4 linked regions of the Homo sapiens genome follow. The protein of the gene in region 1 purifies or fractionates together with the protein of each later gene. This does not show direct contact. Each region holds a gene or a part of one and is shown in the gene's direction. Other genes may lie near its edges.

The links.
Region 2: the proteins of SMARCA5 (region 1) and SMC1A purify together in Homo sapiens (co-purification; 2 studies listed by BioGRID, with this or other methods). This does not show direct contact.
Region 3: the proteins of SMARCA5 (region 1) and BPTF purify together in Homo sapiens (affinity purification with mass spectrometry; 4 studies listed by BioGRID and IntAct, with this or other methods). This does not show direct contact.
Region 4: the proteins of SMARCA5 (region 1) and HMGXB4 purify together in Homo sapiens (affinity purification with mass spectrometry; 3 studies listed by BioGRID and IntAct, with this or other methods). This does not show direct contact.

The regions. Positions count from the first base shown.
Region 1 is NC_000004.12:143,544,688-143,551,714, forward strand, and holds part of SMARCA5 (SWI/SNF-related matrix-associated actin-dependent regulator of chromatin subfamily A member 5), read left to right. Parts: intron 1-49; coding exon 50-160; intron 161-782; coding exon 783-896; intron 897-1,237; coding exon 1,238-1,360; intron 1,361-2,088; coding exon 2,089-2,221; intron 2,222-2,697; coding exon 2,698-2,816; intron 2,817-3,240; coding exon 3,241-3,453; intron 3,454-5,309; coding exon 5,310-5,417; intron 5,418-7,027. UniProt on the Homo sapiens protein: ATPase that possesses intrinsic ATP-dependent nucleosome-remodeling activity.
Region 2 is NC_000023.11:53,398,628-53,405,654, reverse strand, and holds part of SMC1A (structural maintenance of chromosomes protein 1A), read left to right. Parts: coding exon 1-162; intron 163-263; coding exon 264-410; intron 411-505; coding exon 506-643; intron 644-1,761; coding exon 1,762-1,878; intron 1,879-1,982; coding exon 1,983-2,089; intron 2,090-5,924; coding exon 5,925-6,066; intron 6,067-7,027. UniProt on the Homo sapiens protein: Involved in chromosome cohesion during cell cycle and in DNA repair. Central component of cohesin complex. The cohesin complex is required for the cohesion of sister chromatids after DNA replication.
Region 3 is NC_000017.11:67,940,496-67,947,522, forward strand, and holds part of BPTF (nucleosome-remodeling factor subunit BPTF), read left to right. Parts: coding exon 1-161; intron 162-3,654; coding exon 3,655-3,877; coding exon of another isoform or gene 3,878-3,989; intron 3,990-4,913; coding exon 4,914-5,830; intron 5,831-7,027. UniProt on the Homo sapiens protein: Regulatory subunit of the ATP-dependent NURF-1 and NURF-5 ISWI chromatin remodeling complexes, which form ordered nucleosome arrays on chromatin and facilitate access to DNA during DNA-templated processes such as DNA replication, transcription, and repair.
Region 4 is NC_000022.11:35,253,491-35,260,516, forward strand, and holds the start of HMGXB4 (HMG domain-containing protein 4), read left to right. Parts: upstream 1-4,002; 5' UTR 4,003-4,067; intron 4,068-4,697; exon of another isoform or gene 4,698-7,026. UniProt on the Homo sapiens protein: Negatively regulates Wnt/beta-catenin signaling during development.

The DNA.
Region 1 (7,027 bases):
TACTGTGTATAATAAAAGTTGGTGATTTGAGTTGTTTCCCATGTGCTAGATTGCATTCACAGAGTGGATTGAACCACCTAAACGAGAAAGAAAAGCCAACTATGCCGTTGATGCATATTTCAGGGAAGCTCTTCGTGTTAGTGAACCTAAAGCACCCAAGGTGAGTTGACTGACACAGCATAAAAATATCTAAAAATTTTGAAAATGTAATTTTTTTCATATATTCTTGCAAAAAGATTGATAATTAGATTTTGTGTTTCTTTTTTTTTTTTTTTTTTGAGACAGAGTCTCACTCTGTTACCAGGAGTTCAGTGGTGCGATCTCAGCTCACTGCAACCTCCGCCTCCCGGGTTCAAGCAATTCTCCTGCCTCACCCTTCCGAGTAGCTGGGACTACAGGCACCCACCACCACCCCTGGCTAATTTTTGTAATTTTAGTAGTGATGGGGTTTCACCATGTTGGCCAGGATGGTCTTGATCTCTTGACCTCATGATCCGCCCACCTTGGTCTCCCAAAGTATTGGGATTACAGGCGTGAGCCACTGCCTCTTTCCTACATTTTGCATTTCTTTAGAGTGTACTCTCTTCTGTTTTTAGTTAACATTTTTCAAAAATTAATTTTGAATCTGTGCATTTAAAATTAAGATATAAATTCAGTTTTATTGAAAGATGCATTCAGTTGCTTGCAGAATTGGCTGTTGTGGTTTATGAAGTGAGGACTAAGGATACATTTAAAATGAAATTTCTTTTTTATGGATAACACTTATTTTTGTTTTTCTTTAGGCTCCTCGACCTCCAAAACAACCCAATGTTCAGGATTTCCAGTTCTTTCCTCCACGTTTATTTGAATTACTGGAAAAAGAAATTCTGTTTTACAGAAAAACTATTGGGTACAAGGTAATTGAAATTATCTGCCTTTCTGTTCATTCCTATCCAGAAATTATGGAAGGTATAAACATTAGTTATAAATATTTATCTAATTTGGACCTAGTGTGAAACAATACTGCTTTAGCCTAGTCTAGTTGTATGTATGAAATACATAAACTTGGGTCTGTTTTTCTTTAACAAGAAAAAATAAGACTTCATGACCAATCTGGTTTGTTTTTAACATAATACATGCAATGTATCAGTATATTTTCTTTCCTGGTTGAATTGAAACTTGTGAAATGTCAGTTAGTTGGTTCATCACATGCTCTTTAAAATTTACTGATTTGATGGCATAGAAAAATATCTTTTAGGTACCTCGAAATCCTGAGCTGCCTAATGCAGCACAGGCACAAAAAGAAGAACAGCTTAAAATTGATGAAGCTGAATCCCTTAATGATGAAGAGTTAGAGGAAAAAGAGAAGCTTCTAACACAGGTATAGCCTTTAATCAGTACAAACTTTAGTAACAGTTTGTTGTAAAGGACTGTGTTAGGTTATGTTGGGGCATAAAAATAAATACAAGTTTCTGCTTTTAAAGATGGAATAATTGGAGACAATAAAGTATGGGCATGTGGATAAATGCTCCATCTGATTGTCACTAGTTGAGGTAGTTGAGAAGACTACAGATTTTATTACTCTGGCTCGGTAGAGTGGGTATCTTTTTTATCACCTTACTTTGAATGTTCCCGTCTTTCCTATGAATTTTCCACATTGCTACCCAGTCACCATTTTCAACTATAAATCTTGGCTTGGTTATTTTTTAAACATCCTTTGGTGTTCATCAAGGTCTTTCAGAATCTGGCCTTTGACTTACCTTTAAAGCTTCATTTTCCTTCCATTTTTCTACTTGCTCATATTTTTGCCCTTTATGTTATTCACTCTTTCTGGCCAACTGCTAGTAATCCTTCAAAGCTCAGTGAAACTGTCACCTTTTCATACAGTATTCCTTACTCTCAGCCACTCATATTTAATTGCTTGGGTATTTGAGCAATATATAATGTGTTGTCAAAAGTGTATATTTATGTACACGAAAAGTTACCACTCTAAAAGAACTTAATAAACTAGTGAAAATTTGTTTTTGTAATATTTAGAAGGTTTGCTAATAGCATGTTTTCCAAGTTTAATGTGCTGTGATTAAATATTTTGTTTCTGTTCCTGTGAAGGGATTTACCAATTGGAATAAGAGAGATTTTAACCAGTTTATCAAAGCTAATGAGAAGTGGGGTCGTGATGATATTGAAAATATAGCAAGAGAAGTAGAAGGCAAAACTCCAGAAGAAGTCATTGAATATTCAGGTAATTCTTTTAAGCAGGCTGTTGGAGTTTAGTAAGAGCTGTTGGAAGGTTCTTGTTTTCTTATTCTGAATTATGTTGTGATTAGCTAATTTTGTCACAGTGTAGTTAGTACCTTCTTCATTATTTTTTACAAATTAGAAAATGTTCTGTTTCCAGAAATGGCGTAATGGTTTCCTTTTTAAAAATTTTTTAACCCTAGCTAACTCTAGCGACAGCAAAGAAAATCAGAATAAGTCACTGGATAATTGCCCTTGCATTTTTATCTTAATTTCTCTGCATAACTTCAAGTATTATGTGTTGTGTTTCCTGAAGTCAGTTGTATTATTAGGTTAACATGTGAGGGTATGCTGTGGTGAGTCTGCTTAGAATAGCAGAAATTTAAGAATTAGAAGATAAATAATCCAGTTGATCCCATTTTTTTTACATTAAAGAAATAAAAATATAAATGATTTGTTTACTTTGTCCAACTTTTACAGCTGTGTTTTGGGAAAGGTGCAACGAGCTCCAGGACATAGAGAAGATTATGGCTCAGATTGAAAGGGGAGAGGCGAGAATTCAAAGAAGAATAAGCATCAAGAAAGCACTTGACACAAAGGTAATTTGCTTGTTAATAAGTTAGGTAGTTAATAAAATAACTCCTAGCTGTGAGTATGAGAGAGTGACTTTTTATAAAGGAAAAGAAGTAAGGGTTTACAATTTAAAATTTCTTCAGAGTAGCATTCAAACATGGTATTGTCAGCAGAATTTACCTATACACTAGACTGATAGATCTGAGTCAAAGACACTAAGATTAGCTTTTTACTAAGTAGAATCAGGAAGTCTTAGTCTGTATTTCTCTTTATAATAATAAAGACTATAAAGGTCTTTCGGGACAAAGATTATATAAAGCAATTGAAGTGCTCTAGATAGAAAATTCTGATTTGAAATGCAACATTTTAGCTAATTATACTAAAGCTGAGTTTGAAATACAGATTATATAGGATTTGTATTTTATATAATATAAAATCTGACTTTCATAGATTGGACGGTACAAAGCACCTTTTCATCAGCTGAGAATATCATATGGTACTAACAAAGGAAAAAACTATACTGAAGAAGAAGATCGTTTTCTGATTTGTATGCTTCACAAACTTGGATTTGACAAAGAAAATGTTTATGATGAATTGCGACAGTGTATTCGCAACTCTCCTCAGTTCAGATTTGACTGGTTTCTTAAGTCCAGAACTGCAATGGTGAGTGCTCAGGGCTTTTTTGTGTAATGTAGCAGAGTTCAGAGTAAGTGTCATCTTTGGTATTCTTTAAGGTGACTTTAAAAAAATCTATGAAGTAGACTTTTGTTACAATATTGTTAGTATCATAAAACCTAATACCAGGGATAGCTTACAAGTTTATTGGTCCTATCCTTTAGTATCTTACGTCTTTAAATATCACTATATGATAAGACTAGCTTTTCAAGTTCTAAGTGGGAGGAAGTATCAGTTTCAACTTCTGAGTGTTACGACTTTTTGGTTTTTCAAATGAACATATTTCTATAAAGAAAAATGGTCCTTGCATTCAAGCATCTGCACATCAGAATCAGCATTCTGATTTATTTAATATAAATCATCCAGAGTCTGGATTATTTTAAGATGGCTTATTATAGTGAAACACTACTTTTGCACTGATTTAGTGCTAGGTTTTGTTTTTATTCCCAATATCTGACTAACAGTTTCTGACCAAATAGCCCCATTTCTAATAACCTAAAATTTGAATTCAGAAAAGTTTAACTTTGATGGATTGCTCCTTTTCTTCCTTATTTCACCACCATTGAACTTTGAGCTTCAACTTGTTTTCTGCCAGATGAGGATAATGCTAATAAGTTCTTTAGTCTTAAGTTTGGGATATTCTGGGATAAGCAAAGTTTAAACATCTTTGTGTTTGTTTATAGTAAGATTTCTCTGTATATTTAAAGTAAAATGTCACTTTGTAAGACAGTGGATAGTAAGCAGTATTTTCATGTTTGACCACTGAAAATTTTTTTTCACTAGACATCACTGTTTGTGATACCCAAGTTTGGGAAATGTACTAAACTTAAATACATGAAGATACTTTGAAGATAAAACACTGTATAAATATATAATTAGAGAAAAGATCCAGTTGCTGAAAGCTTATTTCTTCTTAAGTGGGAACAATTTATAGAGTTAATAAAGAATAATTTTATAGTGATTGTAACAAGACAGTGCCATGTTAATTTAACTAGTACAGTACCGTAATTTAAAACTGTGTTACTTCTTAACATGTTCCATGTTAAGATGCACAAAAAATGATAATGTATTCTTCTATCTCTATATACTATTTCTAAGTCTTGTGTGGTGTATTCTATACAGTAGTATTTTAAAATTATTTTACTGTAGTTGTGTGTGTAGTAGTATCACTTACTATAAGAAAAAAATAATTTTGCTCTATAAGAAAGGGGGCTGCTACCCAGCAGCCGTCCGTGCAGATGGACTTCTGTTTCTTTCAGGGTTAACTGCTACTTCTATGTTATACTTTAAATCTTTTCTGGAGGCTGTATGTCCAGTTTGCCAGAGAGAGATGAGGTAGAACTCATCGTAGACTTCCATGGCTGGTTTTCCAAAATTGGGAAAGGTGCCATGTGATTGATTGACTACCATAATTCTAGTGATACTTTGAAGGGAAAGATTATACACACCTGTTAAAGTTCTTGTTGTTTTTGACCCTCACATATGTGCACTATTAATCTTTTTAAGTTTTGGATATAAGTAGCACAGTAGTTCTCAGACATACACACTAAGTAGCAGTATTGCATATGTTCATTTTTATTGCTTTAATTCCTAAGTGAAGGAAGAATTTTTGAAGAATACACAGTAGTTTGGCTTTAAAGATTGGAGTAAAAACATTATTTACAAATATCTTGCCTTTAATCTTCATAGCATGAATTGTATATGAAAATCAGTTGTTTTTTTTTTAAATCAGGGGTGTATTAGTGGTTTTATATATTATCCTATTAAAACATACCTTGTTTTAAAATTGAAATCATGAAACTTGTGGATGGAAAGTGCGTGTACCATGTTTGTTTATAATTTAGGAGCTCCAGAGGAGATGTAATACCTTAATTACTTTGATTGAAAGAGAAAACATGGAACTAGAAGAAAAGGAGAAGGCAGAGAAAAAGAAACGAGGACCAAAGCCTTCAGTAAGTATTCATGAATATGTAAATATGTGGATTATGTAAATTTCCCCTTTCTAAGTATTTAACACTGCTTGGCTGTCATTGATGTGTTAGTCCCTGTTGTGCACCCCTCCATTGCCTTTACTTTTTTTTTTTTTTTTTTTTCCTTAAGGGAGAACCCAAGCTCATAATTTGAGATTCTTCCACTTTCAAATTTAGGTAGTGGTATAATTTTTAATTTTTAGTTGTTATGAGTAAGTATGTATTTATAGGTTACATGAGATACTTTGATACAGGCATGCAATAAGTAATAAGGACATCAGGGTAAATGGGGTATTTATCACCTCCAGCATTTATCCCTGTTACAAACAGTTTAACTCTTAGTTATTTTAAAATGTATAATTAAATTATTTATTGCGGTAGTCACTGTGTTGGGCTATCAAATACTGGGTCTTAGTCTCTCTTTGTATTTATTTGTATCCATTAGCCAGCCCCACTTTCCCCCACCCCCACTGCCTTTCTCAGCCTCTGGTATCCATCCTTCTCTCTGTCTCCATGAGTTTAATTGTAGTTTTTAGCTCCCACAAATAAGTGAGAACATGCCAAGTTTGTCTTTCTGTGTCTGGCTTATTTCACTTAATAAACTCCAGTTCCATCCATGTTGCTGCAAATTACAGGGTCTCATTGCTTATGGTTGAATAGTATTCTATTGTGTATACATACCATGTTTTCTTTATCCATTTATCTGTTGATGGACACTTAGGTTGCTTCCAAATCATGGCTACTGTGAATAGTGCTGCAGTAAACATGGGAGTGCACATATCTCTTTGATATACTGACTTTCTTTTGGGTGTAAACCTAGGAGTAGGGTAACTCTTATCTGTAGTTTTTTGAGGAACCTTCAAACTGCTTCCACAGTGATTGTACTAATTTGCGTTCCCACCAAAAGTGTATGAGGGTTTCCTTTTCTCCACATTCTTGTCAGGATTTGTTATTGCCTGACTTTTGGATAAAAGCCATTTTATCTGGGATGAGATGTTATCTCATTGTAGTTTTGATTGCATTTCTCTGATGATCAGTGATACTGAACAGCTTTTAATATGCTTGTTTGCCATTTGTATGTCTTCCTTTGAGAATCATCTGTTCAGATCTTTTGCCTATTTTTAAATCGGACTGTTAGGATTTTTTTCAGTAGAGTTGTTTGAGCTCTTACATATTCTGGTTATTTATTAATCCTTTGACAAATGGGTAGTTTGCAAATATTTTCTTCCATTCTGTGGGATGTCTCTTCACTTTGCTGTTTCCTCTGCTGTGCAGAAGCTTTTTAACTTAATGTGATCCCATTTGTCCATTTTTGCTTTGGTTGCCTGTGGGGTATTATTCAAGAAATCTTTGCCCAGTCCAGTGTTCTGGAGAGTTTTCCCAATGTTTTCTTGTAGTTTCACAGTTTGAGGACTTAAAGTCTTTAATACATTTTGATTTGATTTTTTTATATAGTTAGGGATACAGGTCAAGTTTCATTCTTCTGTGTATGGATATCCAATTTTCCCATTACCATTTATTGAAGAGACTGTCCTTTCTCCAGTGTATGTTCTTGGTAGCTTTGTCAAAAATGAGTTCCATGTAGATGTATG
Region 2 (7,027 bases), on another chromosome or scaffold:
AAACTCCGGGAGCTGAAGGGGGCCAAGCTAGTGATTGATGTGATTCGCTATGAGCCACCTCATATCAAAAAGGCCCTGCAGTATGCTTGTGGCAATGCCCTTGTCTGTGACAACGTGGAAGATGCCCGCCGCATTGCCTTTGGAGGCCACCAGCGCCACAAGGTGTGGATTCCCTTGCCCAGGCTGGAGCTGGACAGGCTCAGTACTGGAGATTCATTTGTTCAGCTTCTCCCCCTCTTCTCTCTTCCCCCTGCTGTGTGTAGACAGTGGCACTGGATGGAACCCTATTCCAGAAGTCAGGAGTGATCTCTGGTGGGGCCAGTGACCTGAAGGCCAAGGCACGGCGCTGGGATGAGAAAGCAGTAGACAAGTTGAAAGAGAAGAAGGAGCGCTTGACAGAGGAGCTGAAAGTAAGCCACAGGCAGTGCTGTTTTTAGCAGTGGGAGTCCTAAGCCTAGGTCAGCCACCACCTTACCACCTAGCCCTTCTTTCTTGTTCCCTTCAGGAGCAGATGAAGGCAAAACGGAAAGAGGCAGAGCTGCGTCAGGTGCAGTCTCAGGCCCATGGACTGCAGATGCGGCTCAAGTACTCCCAGAGTGACCTAGAACAGACCAAGACACGACATCTAGCCCTGAATCTGCAGGTGGGGCCTGGCCTTCAGCCCTGTTCTCCAAAGGCCATCCACACATTCCTGGCCTAGGTTTCTCTGGGGGTGGGGAACTTGTTTCACTTCCCCGTCTCCTCCCAGCCTGCCGCAGGGAGTCAGGTATAGCATAGAGTCAGACAGCCAGGGGTTCAGAGCTTGGCTCTGCCTTGAGTTTGACATTAGGCAAGTATTTTCACCTTTCAGTGTCAACCTTCACATCTTTATCTGTGAAATGCGAGTTAAGATGATACCTACTCGGCCGGGCACGGTGGATCACCTGTGGATCACCTGAGGTCAGGAGTTGGAGACCAGCCTGGCCAAACCTGTCTCTACTACAAATACAAAAAATTAGCTGGGCGTGGTGGCAGGCGCCTGTAATCCCAGCTACTTGGGAGGCTGAGGCAGGAGAATTGCTTGAACCCGGGAGGTGGAGGTTGCAGTGAGCCGAGATCATGCCATTGTACTCCAGCCTGGGTGACAGAGCGAGACTCTGTCTCAAAATAAATAAATGATACCTACTTTATAGGGTCATTATTGAATGAGTTAACATGTAAAGTGCTTAAGACTACCATGTGTTCAGTTTATGTTATGTGCTATTGTTAGCATAATTTATTCATTCAACAAATTTGAATTTTTGAAAGTGAGCTATGGGCATTTCAGTCCCTGCTTGTGGTAGTGGGCGGGGCGGGGGGGGACTGTTCTAGGTATATTAATGTGTTTTGTTTTTTTTACTGACTACTTCCCCAGACCGCCCTAGAGGTTTTATATGTAGTGTGTGTATTTATATATCTTTTTCTAAACTCAAAAAATCTAAACTGAATTCTGAAACAACTCTGCCCCCAGGGGTTGTAGATCAAAGACTGGGACCTATACCTAATGATGTTTACTGTGTCCCCAGCCCTGTGGATTGAAGCTGGCTGAACTGGATGCCAGGGAAGAAGCCATGTGATGGCTTCAGTGCAACATCATGGAGGCTTGACTAGGGCAGTAGTGCTAAGCCAGGTTCTCTCAGTTGTGGAGAGCTAGCCCTTCCTGACTGTGGGGCCAATGCAGTCAAGGTAGCTTTTTCTCCAAGGAGCCTGGTCTGCTTTGTCCTCTCAACCCATTGCCTGTAGGAAAAATCCAAGCTGGAGAGTGAGCTAGCCAACTTTGGGCCTCGCATTAATGATATCAAGAGGATCATTCAGAGCCGAGAGAGGGAAATGAAAGACTTGAAGGAGAAGATGAACCAGGTTGGTAGGGTGTGGGCCATGCCAGCGTGTGTGTCAGGGCAGGACTGGGACTGGAAGCAGGACAGACTAAAAGGGCCGATGCCCTCCCTGGCTTCTCTTCTCAGGTAGAGGATGAGGTGTTTGAAGAGTTTTGTCGGGAGATTGGTGTGCGCAACATCCGGGAGTTTGAGGAAGAAAAGGTGAAACGGCAGAATGAAATCGCCAAGAAGCGGTAGGTGGGAGGATTGGTAGAAGAGATTGGCATGCCCTTGAGCCTCTAGCTTGACATCCTTGGAAAACCAGATGCTGTCATAGGCAAGGGTCAGCTCTTAGAACTATGTGAGTTTATGTAGCTAGGCCTTAAAGAACAGAAATCAGGAGGGCAGTATGGCATAGTTATAGTGGTTAAGAGTGCCAACTCTAAACTTGATTTTCTGGATTCCTGGATTACAACCCCAGCTCCACAACTCGTTATCTTTGGCAGTGACTTGACTTCTGTAAGCTGCAATATCTGCAAAATGGTATAATGATACCTATCTCATGGCATTGTTGGGAGGATTAGGTGAAATAATTTTTTTTTTTTAAGATTACCTGTTTTACCTTTTTTTTTTTTTTTTTTTTTTTTTGACACAGGATCTCACTCTGTTTCCGAGACTGGAGTGCAGTGTCAATCTTGACCTTCCCAGGCTCAGGTGGTCCTCCCACCTCAGCCTCCTGAGTAGCTAGGACTACAGATGTTTGCCACCACGCCCGGCTAATTTTTCTTTTTTTGTTTTTTGTTGTTGTTGTTATTGTAGAGATGGGGTTTTGCCACATTGCCCAGGCTCGTCTTGATCTCCTGGGCTCAAGTGATCCTCCTGCCTCAGCCTCCCAAAGTGCTAGGATTATAGGTGTGAGCCATATTGCCGGCCCTTTTTTTTTTTTTTTTTGAGACAGAGTCTTGCTCTGTCGCCCAGGCTGGAGTGCAGTGGCATGATCTCGGCTCACTGCATTCTCCACCTTCCGGGCTCCCGTGTTCATGCAATTCTCCTGCCTTAGCCTCCTGAGTAGCTGGGACTATAAGTGCACGCCACCATGCCCGGCTAATTTTTCTTATTAGTAGAGATGGGGTTTCACCATGCTGGCCAGACTGATCTCGAACTCCTGACCTCGTGATCCACCCGCCTTGGCCTCCCAAAGTGCTGGGATTACAGGATGAGCCACCACGCCTGGCCCCAACCCCCGCCTGGCTTTTTTTTTTTTTTAACCTTTTTAAAAGGTATTTAGCAGCTTACATATCATCTACTAAGAGCAAGAAATAGTAGCTTTTGTTGTTATTATCATAATGGGCAACGTGAGGTGGAGGGAGGCGGGAGATGAAATTCTTGGTTGAAACAATAGTCAGAAGAAAATAATCTTCTCATTTTTCCTCACTTTAGTTGATTCATTCATTCAACAAACCTTTGTTGAGTACCTACCTTGTGCCAGGTTGTCTTGTGCTAGGTATTGGAAGGGGGACAAGGGAGATGGAGGTAAGACAGATGAACACAACACAGTCTTTGCTGAAGGAGGTCATCCCTTGTACCCTGGGCTTCAGTTAGCAGTTTAGCCCTTTGCCCATACAGTAAATATTCATTGCTGTCCTACTTCAAGCCAGTCTCAAGGGATATAGAATTGAATCAGACTGTATTTCTTTCCTCAGGAAACATATAGAGTACTGGGGGAAACATCAATTTGAGGACAGTGTGATCAATGGTGTAATTAAGGTAGATACAAAATACTGAAGAAATTTTCAAGGAACTGCAAATCAACAACAGGAAAAATAAAAAACAATGACAAGAAACCCAATGGAAATGTGGCTAAGTACTTATGATACCCAATGCAATGAAAAAAGTAAAAAAAAAAAAAGTGGCAAATAATATAGATAGGCTTTCATGGAAAGAGAAGTTCAAGTGGCTAATGACCATAGGAATTGAGGTCTAACCTCTTAATCAGAGAAATGCAAATTTAAAAGTCTGACAGTATTAGGTGGAAATCTATAGATGTCCTGTGTAGTATGTGAAAAAAATATATGTGTATATATATAATGTATATATATACACATATATAAAACCTATGGGTATATATCCCTGAGAGAGTCTTGCCATAGGGTCCCAAAGAGATACACATTCAGTGTCATTCATCTTGGCATAACTTGTAGTAGTGGGACATTGGTGGCAATGTAGATGGCCATTACTGGGGGAGCATAAGTCAAATGAATATATAGACTGGAATACTGTGTGGGAGTTCACAGCAAGAACTAGATTTGTGGGCAGTAATGGATAACTTATAAACCTGGTATTGACCAGAAAAAAGAATAAAATTTATAACACAGTAGATTTGTGTAAATTTTAGAACTAAGACATTTTACAAGGATATGCATTTTTAAGGAATGCATGTGTGTATGTCACTTTGTGGTGCATGTTCACAGTAGGGAAGGTAATGGGAATGGAAATTGGGGATTGAAACAAAGAGGACAAGGGAAGGGTCTTGCCCAGGCAGTGGTGATAAGTGTGTTATGAACTGTGGGATATGATTAACTTGCTTCTGCACCTAAAGTCTAAAAAGGGAGGAACCCAACAAAGTGTAATAGAAACTAGGAACCTGCTCAGAACCGTCAGGAAAGGTTTTACAAAACAGGGAGTGATGACTGGAGACCTGAAGAGTGAGTAGGATTTAGCCAGCCAGGCAGCGACAGAAAAAGTGAATTCCAAGCAGAGAGAACAGCATGCTTGGAAGTGTGAGAGAGCATGCCTTGTTCTGGATACTAAGTAGTTTTTAATGTCTGGAGCATAAAAGCAGGGTCAGGAAGAAGGTGGGGAGTGGTGGAGAGGTCAGCAGGGGCCGGATCACAGAGGCCTTTGTGAGTCATACTTAGGAGATTGGATATAAAATTGCATAGCTCAAAATTATAGAGTTAGTTATATTTCATTTGGATTATAGTGGCTAATAGGTTTAAGCTGCTAGCATGACATCTGGCAACATCTGTCACACCATATTGGGAGTTGGAGAGGGCAATTGGAAGTTAGTCCTGCCTGGCCTGCCAGTGCCTGTGTATGCTGGTTGCATACTCTTGAGTTTCTGAAGAGATGGAGAGGAGGACAATAGCAGGAATCCAGTATTTTCTCCATGTTTTTGTACTATCCAAGTTCTGCCCTTTAAGAGGTTCTGGGACCTTGGGGCAGAAGTTGGGATGCTGTAGTTGAAGCCCTTGGACAAAAGTAAGCTGAGTACAGTCAATATACCTGGTGATAATGGTAACTAAAATTGATTGAGTAGTTATCGTGGACTCGGTGTGGTTCTAAGGACTTTATACATATTAACTCATTTAAAAATCTCCCAATAACCCTGAGGTAGGTACTATTATTATGTTCATTTTGCAGATGGGGAAACAGGTCTGGAGAGTATAACCAACTTGCCTGAATGACATTACTAGTAAGTGGCAGAGTTGAGATGCCAGTCTTCTTAATCCACTACATTATGTTGCAGTGGTGGTATACTAGAAAGAGCCCGGGTTTTGGTGTTAAATCTGGGTTTCAGTCTCACATGTGCCATTTACTAGCTGTGTGGCCTTGGGCAAGGTCTTTTACCTCTTGGCCTAAGTTTTCCTCATTTGTAAAATTAGGATAATAATGCCTACTTGCAGAGCTGTTGATTAGAGGATTAGAGATAATGTATGTAAAGTACATAGAAGCCTAATAGGAATTACCATAGCTGGTAGAATCAGATGGACTCTTTTATGCCTCCTTGTAGGAACTTGGAGGGCGCTGGGGTCTTCATTGTTTAAAGGGGGATAAATAAGGTTTGGCCGAATCTTCCCTGCCTTATGCCATGTCCACAGGGCTAGGCTGAGGAACTTAGTTCTTCAGCTTCAGGGGACCGTTTTATGTGCATATGGATGGATGAAGCAAGTTGTGACTGAAAATCAGTAACTCTGGGTCCCTGAGCCCTGGGTCTAGTTTCCCTTTCTTCCCATAGTTGGATTTTGTACATTGGTTATCTCTGGCTGATGAGATTATGAGTGATTCTCCCCCCACCTTTATACACAGTTTGGAGTTTGAGAATCAGAAGACTCGCTTGGGCATTCAGTTGGATTTTGAAAAGAACCAACTGAAGGAGGACCAAGATAAAGTACACATGTGGGAGCAGACAGTGAAAAAAGATGAAAATGAGATAGAAAAGCTCAAAAAGGTAAGGAAGGAAAGAATTAAAAGACAGACTAATAACTGGGAGGAAAAATGGGAAGAAATACGACAGACAGAAGGATAATGTCCACAACTTAGAAATTTCTCATCTAAATCAATAAGAAAAATACCAAGACCTAAACGGGAAAAATGGATAAATGTCACAAACAGTTCAAGAAGACTTTCAAATAGTCCCTAAACACATACAAATAATTTAGTCTTACTAAAGAAATGCAAATTAAAGCAACAATTAGATACAATGTATTTTGTAACACATCGTGGAAAATGTAAAAACAGAAGACACAATGCTCAATACCAGCCATGGTATAGGAGACCAGTATTCTTTTTTTCTTTTTTTGAGATGGAGTCTTGCTCTGTTGCCCAGGCTGGAGTGCAGTGGCACTATCTTAGCTCACTGCAACCTCCGCCTCCCGGGTTCATGCCATTCTCCTGCCTCAGCCTCCCAAGCAGCTGGGACTACAGGTGCCTGCCACCACGCCCAGCTAATTTTTGTATTTTTAGTAGAGACGGGGTTTCACCATATTGGCCAGGCTGGTCTCGAACTCCTGACCTCATGATCCACCTGCCTCGGCCTCCCAAAGTGCTGGGATTACAAGCATGAGCCACCGTGCCTGGCCAGGAGACGAGTATTCTTATGTAATGTGGCACCATCCTTCAAGAAGCTTCACAATGCATTTATACTCTGTAACTCAGTAGTACCTGAGGAGATCATCCAAAATGCTGGCAAAGCTTTATGCAAACACTTTGATGTTTATAACAAGCATTATTTATAGTTCCAAATTGGAAACTACTCAGTGCCCCTTGGAAAGTGGGAATTTAGCAAATCATGCTACGTTTGTAACATTATTTATGTAGTGTCTTCAAACTTTAGTAATACACAGACCCTTTTTAAAGGAAAAATAGTCCCTAAGATTGCCAGTGTTGCCTTAAATCCGTGATGTTACTTA
Region 3 (7,027 bases), on another chromosome or scaffold:
TCTCCGCCCCTAACACGGTTTCCTCAACACCTGGGCAGAAAAGCTTAACTTCAGCAACGTCCACTTCAAATATACAGTCTTCAGCCTCACAACCCCCTCGCCCCCAACAAGGACAAGTGAAGCTCACCATGGCTCAACTTACTCAGTTAACACAGGGCCACGTAAGTAACATAAGCTTTATTTTAACTTTAGAGGTGATCTTATTTATTCTTGCGGTAAGTTTAAAAACATGAACTTATTTTGATACGTTTTTAAATGTGCTGATTTGAAGAAATGGTTGCTTCCTGGAGTCAAGCAGAAATACCTCTTAGACAGGATATAATAAACCCCAACTACTAGAGTAATCTTTAGACAGTGAGCTAAAACAGTGAGACAGATAACCCTTTTAAACACCAAAATTTTATTAGTTGGCTAATCTCCATGAGACAAATAAAATTTGAGTACATTAAGCTGCTTCCTTGCAAGACTCGATATTGTTAGCAAGTCTTCTAATATTGATTAATAAATTGAATGCAGCTCCCATCAAAATCCCAAGAGGTTTTGTTTTTAGTGAAACTTCACAAGCTGATACTGAAAGTTTATATGGAGGTACAAAGTATTAAGAATATCTGTACCTTTGAAGAACAGGATTATTTGCCCTATATATGATAACTTGATATCAAAACTTAGTATAGGCTGGGCATGGTGGCTTGCGCCTGTAATCCCAGCACTTTGGGAGGCCAGGGCGGGTGGATTGCTTGAGGTCAGGAGTCTGAGACCAGCCTGACCAACATGGTGAAATTCCATCTCTGCTAAAAGTACAAACAAATTAGCTGGGCGTGGTGGCATGCGCTTGTAATCACAGCTACTCAGGAGGCTGAGGAAGGAGAATTGCTTGAACCTGGGAGGCGGAGGTTGTAGTGAGCTGAGATTGCACCACTGCATTCCAGCCTGGGTGACAAAGCAAGACTTCATCTAAAAAAAACCAAAAAACTTAGTATATAATACTTCACTAATTAATATAGTGAGGTACAGACATAAGGAGAGGCAGATAGACCAACAGAACAGTAGAGAGTGCAGAACATGAACCCCATGTATGTGGACACTTGTTATATGACAAAGGTGACATTGCAGATCATTGAGGAAGAGATGACTTTTCAGTAAATGGTGCCAGGACAATTGAATATACATGGGAAACTGTGAAATTGGACCATTATTACCTCACTCTACATAAACTCAATTCCAGGAGGATGAAAGTCCTAACTGTGAAAGGTAAAACTATAATACCTTTAGAAGATAGAAGAATATCTTCATAGCTTTCCTAAACAGATAGAAAATGCTAACCATAAATGAAAAGATTTATAAATTCAACTACTTTAAAAATAAGAGTAAGAACCTCTGTTCATCAAACTCACTACAGAGAGAGTGAAGAAAATGAGAAAAGAACCAACCAAGGACTATTACATATCCAGAATATATAAAGAATTACTACAAATCAAGAAAGAAAAAAATCCAGATAGATCAATAGGAAAAAAGACAAACAGGCAAGGTGCGGTGGCTCACACCTGTAATCCCAGCACTTTGGGGGGCCAAGGTTTTGGGAGGCCAAGCCAGGTGGATCACTTGAGGTCAGGAGTTTCAGACCAGCCTGGCCAACATGGGGAAACCCCGTTTCTACTAAAAATACAAAAATTAGTCAGGCGTGGTGGTGTACGCCTGTAATCCCAGCTGCTTGGGAGGCTGAGGCAGGAGAATTGCTTGAACCCAAGAAGCAGAGGTTGCAGCGAGCCAAGATATACCACTGCACTCCAACCTAGGCAACAGACTCCGTCTCAAAAAAAAGAAAAACAAAAAAAAAAGGACAAACCAACATTATGAGGAAAGAAGAAATCTAAATGTCCCAAATTCCAAAAAACTGCTGAACTTTATTAATAATGAGAGAAGTACATATTAAAACCATATGCTTAAGAGATTGGTACAAATTTAAATGTCCAACAAAACCAAGAGTTAGCAAAGACATAGAGCAGAAAGAATTCTCATGCACAGCTGGTGGGCCTATCAGTCGGTTCAGCCATTTTGGAAACTTCCTGGACATGGTCTGGTAAAGTCAAAGCTGTGTATGCCCAAGGTCCCAGTATACCTTCTAGGTATATCCCTAGAGAAGTTGTTGGCCATGTGAGCACCAGAATACATGGCATAAATATTGGTAGCAGCATTGTTCATAAGAATCAAAAACTAAGAACAACTCAGGTGTCTATCAAAATCAGTTAGCTAAGTAAATTGTAGTATATTCCTACAGCAATAAAAATGAATAGACTTCAGCCACACAGAACTATGCAGATGATTCTCACAAATATATAATGGTAAGCTAAAGAAGCAAGTAGCTGCCAAAAAAAATACATGTTATAATTTCATTTGTATAAGATTCAGAAATAGGCAAAACTAAGCTATTTTGTGTAGGGATACAGGGCTGCTGCATTGCCTGCCTGGAGGGGGCACTATTCCCATTGTATTCTTTGTGAATATTGCTCCTGAGTTTGTGAACCTCAGTGGCCTTATATATACCTAAGATACATACCGAAGTAGTAATGAAATACAGTGTTATCATCAAAGTGAGGATAGTGCTTACCTCTAGGGGAGAGGGAGGGAATTGAAATCCGGGTGAGTCATATGGGGACTTCTAGGACACTGGCAATGGTGACCACAGTGGCGGTTTTATAGATGTTTACTTTATAATTTTTAAATTATACTTGGTGTTTTGTGCATTTTGTGCATAAAAAATGTATTTTAGAAAAGCAAGAGTAAATAAGTTTTGAGGGATTCACATGTATATGGAGCTTACTTAGTACATGGACTTTGCGCCATCAGTTTTGGTCATTGGGAGTTTAGGGGATGGTTTTTACTTTTGCTTTCCAGTTCTCCAGCATGTTCCTGGTATTCAGGGTTTCTAGTTGAATTACAGTTCTGGACAGAAGAGAGAGCGCCTAGAGAATTTTAAATTTCTGGACCCCTTTTTGGTAACTGCTCAGACCTTAGTGATCCTCCTTACTTGGTGTTTGCATTACATATCTAAAACCCTAAGCTTTTTACAGTTTAGCACACACACACCCCATAGGTAATTTGGCACGTATTGAAAGACAAAATTCAGGAGATCTAGGTTCCTTCTTTTATCTCACCTTTAAGTTGGCCAGGGTACTTGACCTTTCTAACCTGAGTTTCTTAGTTGGGAATCAGAAGAATATTTTCTCTGCCTACCCCATAAAGTCACAAGTCCATTGTGAGAATCAAATGAGGCAGTATCTATGAAGATGCTTTTGAAATTGTAAAATATGAATATAAGATTATTTAAAATCAGAATTTTGTGGGGACTTTAGTTATTCAATACCTTTATTTTATAGATTGGGAAACTTGGATCTGGAGGAACAGTGTTGCTTGTGGACAGATAACTGGCTGACCATTGGGGGAGCTTGAACTGGAACTCTGGATTGTTGATGTTTTTCCTACTAAGCAACATAAATATTCTTACTTTAGCTTATCTAAATTCCTGCTGGTGACATTCAAATATGTATTTTCATTATATTAAAAGATAATTACACATAAAAATGATTTAATAAAAATGATATACATACAGATTGATGCTTTGAACACTGTTTACATGTTGTGTTTTTTCCACAGGGTGGCAATCAAGGTTTGACAGTAGTAATTCAAGGACAAGGTCAAACTACTGGACAGTTGCAGTTGATACCTCAAGGGGTGACTGTACTCCCAGGCCCAGGCCAGCAGCTAATGCAAGCTGCAATGCCAAATGGTACTGTTCAGCGATTCCTCTTTACCCCATTGGCAACAACAGCCACCACAGCCAGCACCACCACCACCACTGTTTCCACGACAGCAGCAGGTAGAGCTGTGGGTTTATCGGAAATGTCGGATGTTACTACTACACGTGGCTGGGCTAACAGAGGCCAACAGGAGAACCAGTATTTACCTTTGGAAGGATATGCCTCAAGCCAGTGACCTCAACAGTTGACATAGTCAGCCTCACAACGTCTCGAAGCTTTTGTACCCTATTCTTACAGACTCCCTGTTACCACCACCCTCTCCCTCCTATTAAAAAAGAGAGAGAGAGAAAGGGGGCAAAAATAATGGTTATCTTGGTAACTATGCCCACACTTACTCCTTGCTAAGCCTTGTAGGTGCTGATTCAGTCATGGAGGTGATCTCAGGGAGGGTGGGTAAATCCAGTTCATGACCTCAGATTGAGAGTGGGTCCAGAACCACTTTGTTGACCTTCTGCTGCAAGTCATTGTAACTAACTACCACCACATCATGGGAGAAAAGTGAAGCGTGGCAATTAGCCTGGGCCAGATGACCCAGCTGATTTCCAGAGGCTGCAACTTACTTTGGAAACCAGCCCTCTAGAGTTAGGAGAGTGTACAGGGGACAGCCAAGAAGCAGGGCCCAGGCTTCCCAGTTTCAGAGCGTCCTGCCCTAAGCGTGTCCAAATGGAGCATTTCAAAGGCATAGACCTTCTGTACCAAAATACAAAATTCTCAACTTTATTTACTTTATTTATTTTTTCGAGACAGGGTCTTGCTCTGTCGCCCAGGCTGAAGCGAAGTAGCACCATTACTGCTTACTGTAGCCTTGAACTCCTGGACGCAAGCAATCCTCCCACCTCAGCCTCCCACGTAGCTTGGACCATAGCCATGCTCCACTATGCTCAGATAATTTTTTATTTTTTTTGTTTTTGTGTAGAGACGGGGTCTCACTATGTTGCTCAAACGATCCTCCCACCTCAACGTCCCAAGGTGCACAGGTGTGAGCCACCACGCCTGGCCAGAATTCTCAACTTCAGAAGATTTCCTTCAGATTCTTCTTTAACCACAGTTTTATGTTCCAGAGTAATAGAAATGGTTCATCTTTCCTTTTTACAGGTACAGGTGAACAAAGGCAGAGTAAACTGTCACCCCAGATGCAGGTACATCAAGACAAAACCCTGCCACCAGCTCAGTCATCAAGTGTGGGTCCAGCAGAAGCCCAGCCACAGACTGCTCAGCCTTCAGCTCAGCCCCAGCCCCAAACCCAGCCCCAGTCCCCAGCTCAGCCTGAAGTTCAGACTCAGCCTGAAGTTCAGACCCAAACAACTGTTTCATCCCATGTCCCTTCTGAAGCACAACCCACCCACGCACAGTCATCCAAGCCCCAAGTTGCAGCACAGTCTCAGCCTCAAAGTAATGTCCAAGGACAGTCTCCTGTTCGTGTCCAAAGTCCATCACAGACTCGAATACGTCCATCAACTCCATCCCAACTGTCTCCTGGACAACAATCCCAGGTTCAGACTACAACCTCACAACCGATTCCAATTCAACCACATACATCTCTTCAGATACCTTCCCAAGGCCAGCCACAGTCACAACCCCAGGTACAGTCTTCAACTCAAACTCTTTCATCAGGACAAACTTTAAATCAAGTTACTGTTTCATCCCCATCCCGTCCTCAGCTACAAATACAGCAGCCACAGCCCCAAGTCATTGCTGTGCCTCAGCTGCAACAACAAGTCCAGGTTCTCTCTCAGATCCAGTCACAGGTTGTGGCTCAGATACAGGCTCAGCAAAGTGGTGTGCCCCAGCAAATCAAACTCCAGTTACCTATCCAAATTCAGCAAAGCAGTGCTGTGCAGACTCACCAGATTCAGAATGTGGTTACAGTGCAGGCAGCCAGTGTGCAAGAGCAGTTGCAAAGGGTTCAGCAACTCAGGGATCAGCAGCAAAAGAAGAAACAGCAACAGATAGAAATTAAGCGTGAACACACCCTCCAAGCTTCTAATCAAAGTGAAATCATTCAGAAACAGGTAAAGTTATTAAGTAAAAGCAGCATGTTCAGTAGCTTGAATTATTGTGCTGTGCAGTAGAATTAGTGTTTGGTTGTGTTAGGTTTCCTAAATGAGACAAAGTCATTAATGTTTAAATTTAGAAGAAACACTGAATTGACCAAAAAAAATACTGAATGACTACTGTGGTGTGGAACACTTCGTTAGATACATATAATATATAGTCAGTGCTTATTAGGAATGACCTGTATTTTGGGAGGACTAAGATGGGAAGAATGGAGTTATGAGCTTTAATCTTTAATATAAAACTTGAGGGTTTAACTAAGTTTTAAAGCCACTTCAGACATTATAGCAATTCCTTTAAAGTTATTGAAAGTTGTCATTCCTTAGTTTGCATGTAGACTATGCAAATTATAGACAGATTAAACTCATTTGCATTTCTAGCCACACCTTTGTAAAAAAGTTTTTGAAAACATATTATTTCATAGCTTAAGTAAAAAGTGGCATCATCCAGCAACATCTTGCAATGGCACATTAGTGAAATAAAGCAATTTAGATGAGTTAGAATTAGTCTACTAAAGTGAAGTCACACATATAACATCTGATAACATTACTGGCAGAAACCATCTTTTCATCTACCTATAGCTTGCTTCGCTCAGCACTAGGCAGGAGTTTGAATGTGGATTTTAAGTGTTACCAAGTTGTGAGACCTTCATTCAGTTCCTAGGTCTCCCATTCACAGTCCGTGAAACTCACTTATCCCTCCTTAGCTATAGCCTCTTAAAACCCTTCTCTTTCCAGCCACATGAGATTATTGCAATGATTAAATGAGGTCATAAATGTAGAAGCACTTTTTACACAGCGAAGTTATTTTAAAGATGTAGTATTCTTATGAAAATGACGGTCATATATATTATATTTAAATGTATTATTACCCAGCTTTACTGTGTATCTATAAACTGAGAATTACTACACTGTCTGTCTATCCGCTAATCTTTGTATAGGGGAGACGAGGGACAGTTCTTTAAAATTCATTCCTGGGAAGAAAGCATAATGTTAAAAATACGGCCTTTGGAGAAGGATAGCCAGGTTAAAATTTCAGCTGTATTACTTACTGTTTGTCAAACAAGGTGGTTAATTTCTTTATGTCTCAGTATCTTGTTTATAAAATTATTGCTATGGTTCAGTGTTGTTGTAAGGAATAAACGAGGTAATGTC
Region 4 (7,026 bases), on another chromosome or scaffold:
AGAAGGACTAATGTCCTATTGCAACTTTGTGGTATCCCAGGAACTATCACAATACTGAATGATCACATGACCCCATCCCAGCCAATTGGAGTTCTTCTCTTGGATTTTGTGCGCGCGCGCGCGCGCGTGTGTGTGTGTGTATGTGTGTTGCTGATGTGGGAACATGCTCTTTCCTCTCTGGTCAGGAGACTATAAAGATGTAAGCCTGGGCTACCTGTGGCCATGATTCCAGGCCCCTAGGGACTGCCAGCCTGAGAGAACAGAGTTAAGAGGGAAGGATTTGAATCCCCGGACCCAGCTGTCCAGAGGGCCTGCTTCTCTCTGGCTCTGAGTAGTTTTTGTTTTGTTTTGTTTTTTACATGAGTTACATATTTTCTACTGGTCTCTTTATTTTTTTAATTTTGCAATTTAGGGCATACACACAGACTGAGAATCTGTGGTATGTCCCTCTGCCTGTCTCTTAAGGTAGTTTTAATTAGGTCCTGTCACTTCTAGCAAAAGGCCCTGGCCTAATGTATGTACCCAGGATGGCATCCTCCCATCAGACCGAAGACAAAGACGCTGCTCAAAACACATCTGGAAAGAGAAGAGCACAGAAAAGTGGCCTGAAGAAAGAGATGTCCAAACCAAGCACAATTTGACAGGCCCCACCTGTTGCTGCCAGGCACCAGGCAGTTTTCCTTAGATCAGGTGGACCAGAGAACTGCCCCACACTTAGGGAGTGCCCCCTCTTCACATATGCTAGATGCTATCCTCACTTGCCATGGGAAAAGGCATTCTTATTCACAAACCCCACCATGACTAGGCCTGCCCAGAGGGTCCTCTTTTCTGTCTTTCCAAGTTTCAAAAATGCAAGAGAACTATGAAAGATAGTCAGCAAAGAATACTTTTCCAGCAAGGTACAGAGGAAGCACTTGAATACATTCAAGGAACTATGATCTCCTGGCTCCCACCACCAACCCACTTCTGGCTGAGCTAGCTCCGGTGTGCACCTCAACAGAGAAGCCTCCCTGATTACTGTTTTAAAGAACAAGCTGTTCCTACCCACATCCCCTGCTGGTACTCTCGTAGCCAACCTGGCATTATTTTCTCCACCTCTGATTATCACTGAATGTAGTATTCATATCTTAATTTTGTGTCCCCCAACCCAACCGGAATGTAAGCTCCTGGGGGCCAAGGACTCTCAATTCTGTTCACTGTTCTATTCCCAACACTTAAGACAGTACCTGCCACATGCTGTGTTTTCAATAAATATCTGTTTAATAAATGGAAGTGCAATGATCCAAGACTGGGAGCAAGTTAATAGCATTTTGTGATTGAGTGAGTAGGCTGAGGAGAGATCTGACTTCAGGTCTCCAGGAGCTTAAAATGAGCAAGAACTTGATATGCTCCATCTTCAGGTGGACTAAAAGAAGAAATGGGACCAATAGGACTCATAAGGCTTTTAGGTCCAAGCTAGTGGTAGAGTGTGGGGACAGCTACTGTTTTTGCCTACCTAACATGCACTCACCCTTCTGACAGCAACCCTTGATTTTCTTTGTGTCTACCCCAACCTAATTTTGGAGGTAAGCAGATGACCTAATTTAACCAATCAGCAGCAGCAGCAGACTCCACACCTTTACTCATAGTGATTGCTTTTTGTCTGGACACATGATCTAATTCAGGCAATAAGAATCAATCCCATGACTTTTGCCAAAGCAAAAGGGAAAAAGAAACTCCTTCCAGGGCCAGGCATGGTGGCTCACATCTGTAATCCCAGCACTCTGGGAGGCCAAGGCAGGAGGATTGCTTGAGTCCAGGAGCTTGAGACCAGCCTGGGCAACATGGTAAAAAAAAAACAACAAAAAAAACCCATCTCTACAAAAAATACAAAAAGTACCTGGGCATGGTGGCATGCACCTGTGGTCCCAGCTACTTGGGGGGCTGAGGTGGGAGGATTGCTTGAACTCAGGGGGTCGAAGCTGCAGTGAGCTGTGATCGTGCCACTGCACTCCAGCCTGGGTGACAGAGAAAGACCCTGTCTCAAAACAAACAAACAAAACCTCCCTCCACAGGGACACTGCTAGCAGGAAAGATGATGAAGCTTGGAGCTGCTGGAGTCATCACCTGAATCTGAGAATAAAGCTAACAGAGGAGAGCACCACAGACACGTCAAAGGACCAGCTTGAGTTACCTCCCTGGAAGTGACCATGTCTGCAGGTACTGGAAATTTCAATCATGTGAGCCAATAAATTCCCCTCTTCTGGGGAAACACATGGAAATGGGTTTCTGTCACAACTGAAATCATCCTGACCAATGGATTTAGGGCTCTGAAGAACAAAAAGGAAATACATCATTAGGGCTCTTAAATGCCTCAAAGGGAAGCCTAACGTCAGGCAGGGTGTCCCAGAAATGCAATCTAACACCTTTTGGTGAAACTCATTGCCTGTCTTTTTGGTGAGTAGGATGGGAGCTGCGGAGAAAAAGGCCATGCTACTTTTATTAAGTATTTGCAGTTACATTTTGCAAATGATTTCAGCAACTTTATCTCAGGTGTTTTAACATCTCAGCATCTCACAGTTGTAAGAAACAGAATCAATCTTCTACTCAGTGCAGAGGGGGAGAGAGCATGATATAGCAAAAAGAGCACTGAACCAGAGTCTAACAATCTGGCTTTTCATCTTTATCTGATCACTGATTAGAGTGTGGTCTCAGACAAATCACCTTGCTTTTATTGGTCTCATGACTACCTCGTCTTCAAGCACTCACCCAACTCTGCAATGGAAAATACACTAGGACAGAGGTTCTTAATTTTTTATGGGGCCTGGGCCCTAGGAAAACACACACTGCACACATGATTTTACGTTGCATGGGGTTCACAACTCTAGAAGCCAATCTACATCTCTAACTTCTCTGCTTTACAGTAACACCAGCTTCTGCTTGAGCGCTCCTCCAGTGGGAGGGAGCTCACTACTCACAAGGAAGCCCATTGTACTACTGAACTGTACTAGAAAAATAAGTTATTCTTCATATATATATATATTTTTTGAGATGGAGTCTCACTCTGTCCCCCAGGCTGGAGTGCAGTGGCGCAATCTCGGCTCACTGCAATCTCCGCCTCCCGGGTTCAAGCGATTCTCCTGCCTCAGCCTCCTAAGTAGCTGGGATTACAGGCACGCGCCACCACGCCTGGCTAATTTTTTGTATTTTTAGTAGAGACGGGGTTTCACCACATTGGTCAGGCTGGTCTCGAACTCCTGACCTCAGGTGATCCACCCACCTCAGCCTCCCAAAGTGCTGGGATTACAGGCGTGAGCCACCGCCCCTGGCGTTCTTCTTCATATCAAACCAAGTTCTATACACTGTAATTTCTACTCATTGGTCGAAGTTCTCAATGGCAAATCAGAAAAATTGTGTTCTCGCCTGTATATGACATCTCTTCCTCTCTCTCTCTGAAGACTGTTTCTAACTAAAAAATGTAGATGATTCGCCATGCAAATTATTTTACTGTACATTGTTACAAAGATAAGTTCTTCACCTCACCCCTAATATGCCAAATGTTCAAATGTAGATGCTGAAGTCCAAATAAGCACACTGCTATTAATCTGCATAGATCTAGGTGTTGCAAAGAGGAGAACTGCTGTATAACAATATCTTGAAAGAAACAGCATAGTATTTTGGGGAAAGCACTGCATTCAGAATCAGAAGACTTGGAGTAATACTCGGTCTCACATTCCAACTACCTGTGTATCCTTGGGCACGTCACTTAACTTCTCTCAGCCTGGTTCTCTTCTGCAAAATGCGACAGGAATACAGTGAGGATTAAGTGAAATAATGTTTGTAAGCTTCTAGGGCAAGGCTGGGACATAGCAAATTCTCAATAAATAAGTGCCAGCTCCCGCGCTCAGCAGGCTCCGAGTTTTATTCGATGCGCTCGGCGCTCTTGGTCGAGCGGGATTCCCCCTCCGGAGCCCGAGTCTGCGCTCTGGGCTCGACTGAGGCTCCCTGGCCGCTCGCGCTTTTCTCTCCTTCTCCAAGATGGCGGCGATCGGCGGCGTTGAGGCGGGATCCGGGCGAGCCGAGTGAAGGTAGCGGCGAGCGGAGACCCCAGGAGACCGGGCTGGGCCCCCACCCTGAGGCGGCAGCAGCCCCGCCCCGTCGCCACCCGCCGCCCTGGGCCCGCGACATCACCTCTGGGGTGCCCCAGGCCCTTCGCGGCCTAGCCCAGGGGCCGAGCCGGGGACTGGAGTAGCGGCCGCAGCCGCCCCCAGGAAGGGGCTGGAGCGGGCAGAAGGAGGAGGGCGGGCGGGAGCTGTTCAAACGGGGAAGGCGGGAAAGCTGCGGGGCCGGGAGGGGGCGTGCGGCCGCCCCGGGGGCCTGCGGACCCGGGCCGCCCCTCCCCCTGCCCGGGCCGTCTCCGCCCTCGGGGGCGCCGTGAGGCCGCCGGAGACGCGGGAACCCGGGTTCAGGTCGAGCTGTGCGGCTCGGAACCCGCGATGCGGGGGTCCCTCGGGCTGTCAGGGGGAAAGGGCTCGTGGCCGCGGCCACGGGAGGGCTGGGGCTGCGGCTGGCAGGAGAAAGTACGAGGAGCTTTCTTCTTTTCCTCTTCACAGAGCTTTGTTGAGCTAGCTGTTGCCGCAAAACTGCCGGGAGAATCCCACTGGTTTGCCTTGGGGACCACAAAAATGGTGGTCCTGGGGGCTGTTTGTGTAAATCACCTGGTATTTTGTGTGTTTCTTGCGTGCAACCCGGCTTGGCCGTGCCTTCGTGGTGGGCGCCTTCTCCATGCAGGCCCATTTTCCCTCCACCAACTACTACTTGTAGATTCACTTTATAGCGTGCAAAAGCGGAGAAACATCTCTGTCCCCTCTTTTGGAGGGCTAAGCTGGTGGCTGATTATATTTCCTCCTAATAGAACAAAGTAAAAAACTGAATCCCAAATAAAGCCTGTTGATTGGACAAGGCTTCTCAAAATTCGATTGCTGGTCTTATGGAATGTGTGTTGTCAGCCAATCTGTGCGGTGGTCGTGGTTCCGCTTAATTGCACTGCAATGAGAGGATTCAATCCCCATCCCCGACTGTCGGGATCTCTGCAGCTTCCAGAGCTGGCAGGGGCTGGGAGTGCTGCCTAGGTAGGTCCCTGGAGAAGGGAGTGGCAAGAGGATTCGGAGTCACCGTGTTCGGAGATTGGAAGAAACCTGGACGAAGTTGAGAAGGCATCACTTGTCTGTATCGTAGAAGTAACAAGAAAATTTCAGAAATTGGCAACCGGCGGATGTGCATCTTCCTTTACCTGCACTGACTGGCATTTTGAGTTCTTGAAAGGAGTGGTTGGAAGAAGAGAATGCAGAATCTTGGACATGGCTCTCATCCTGGAACAGACCTGGAGTTCAGAATTTCTCTTACTGTCCGTGTGACGGGGCTTACTTTGTTTCCTTTTTTTCGATACTCATTTACATTATGGGGTGAAGAAGGTTGTTGATTGCAGGAGCTCAAGTTACCTCAAAAAAAGTCTGAAACCTGTTTTTTAACTGTAATTTGAAGTTTCAAAATGACAAAGTGCTATATCTGAGGACTTTTTCCTCCTGATTACTTTGGTCATCCCAAAGGCCTATGCCTGAACATAACTTGTATGCTTATCTACCAGGGAAAGAGCAACTCTGCCCCCTCCTTTTTCATATCCTGAAGAAAAGTCCCCGAAGAGCTATTTAACAATTTGTGCATTTCATAAGTATACATTTTTATGGTACCAGTTTTTTACTTGTATCAACAGTATGAAATAGTGAACTTTTACTTATGTTGTCATATCTTAGCACACTGAGACAAACAAAATTATTCTTGCCTCTTGGAGTTGACAACATTGAATTTTATAAACTCCCAAATTATTGAATTGAGACTGGGTTTTAACACCTGTTTCACATTTGCCAACATTTAATGTAATTATGACCTCCCTTTTCTAATGTGAAAATCAAACCTAATATTCATTTTCATTAATCCTCACAATCTACTCTCTACCCCTGAACTCTGAATTTTCACAGATTGTATTCAAGACCTGGAAGGAATATCAGGGGTTCATCTGATCTTATATAAATGTTGCCTGAACTCTGCCTTTCTTTCACACTGTTGCTTGAGATTTATCTGGTATCTTTCCAAAACTAAACCCTGAGCTGCAATAATATCCTGATTTTAAAGAACGTAGAAATTCAGGGCCCATCGGTCTGCCCAAGCTGTGGCTGATACAGTCCGTTGTGTTTAATTTTAGTTTTTCAAGCTCTTGGCTGCCCCAGTTCTTCAGTGAATTGGACGTGTCTTCAGGCCTCATTCCTTCTTTTTTCTTCAGGTTATTTAATCCAGTAATTTATAAAATGCTCTTCAGTGTTTTTAAGAAAATTTAAACAGTGGTAGACCTAATATATGTAATGCCAACACCACATTTTCTTGGTTGGCCTGTGCCTCTGAGAAGCAGTTCCTAATTTTCTATTCCCTCTCACAACTTTTTAATCCACTAGTTTTTTAAAGCAGCCAGTAACGAGACCACGATACAGTCATCTTTCTTTCTTTCTGTCTTCAGAGGTACTTATTTCTATTCTGTTAGGTTGCCCAACTCTGTTTTATGTTGATTTTGATGTTACCAAAGGGAAGGCCTGTTATAAGTCTCAGGACCAGCCTTTGCTTACATATACAAGTGCATTTTGTTGTTGACAAAACACTGATGACTGTATTTATGACATTGAATATTTAAGTTTTTTGCCATTATTTCTGAAATATTCTTTGCCAAAATTCATGCACAGAAAGTGTTTAATTTGAGGTCTCCATTGGTTCTTGGCATTATCAGCCTATGAAAATCTATATAATCTATATATTTTTCTTATAAACTCAGTATTTTAGTGCCATTGAGAGGATATGCTGTTTTCAAATAAATTGATATAATTCCCTGTATTTCCCTTCTACCTGCACCCCTTTTGGAGTCAGCACCACTTGGGTGGAAAGGGGAGGACAGTAGTTTCCGCTGAGAAAGTGTCATCCTTAAATGCTGGAACATGGAAA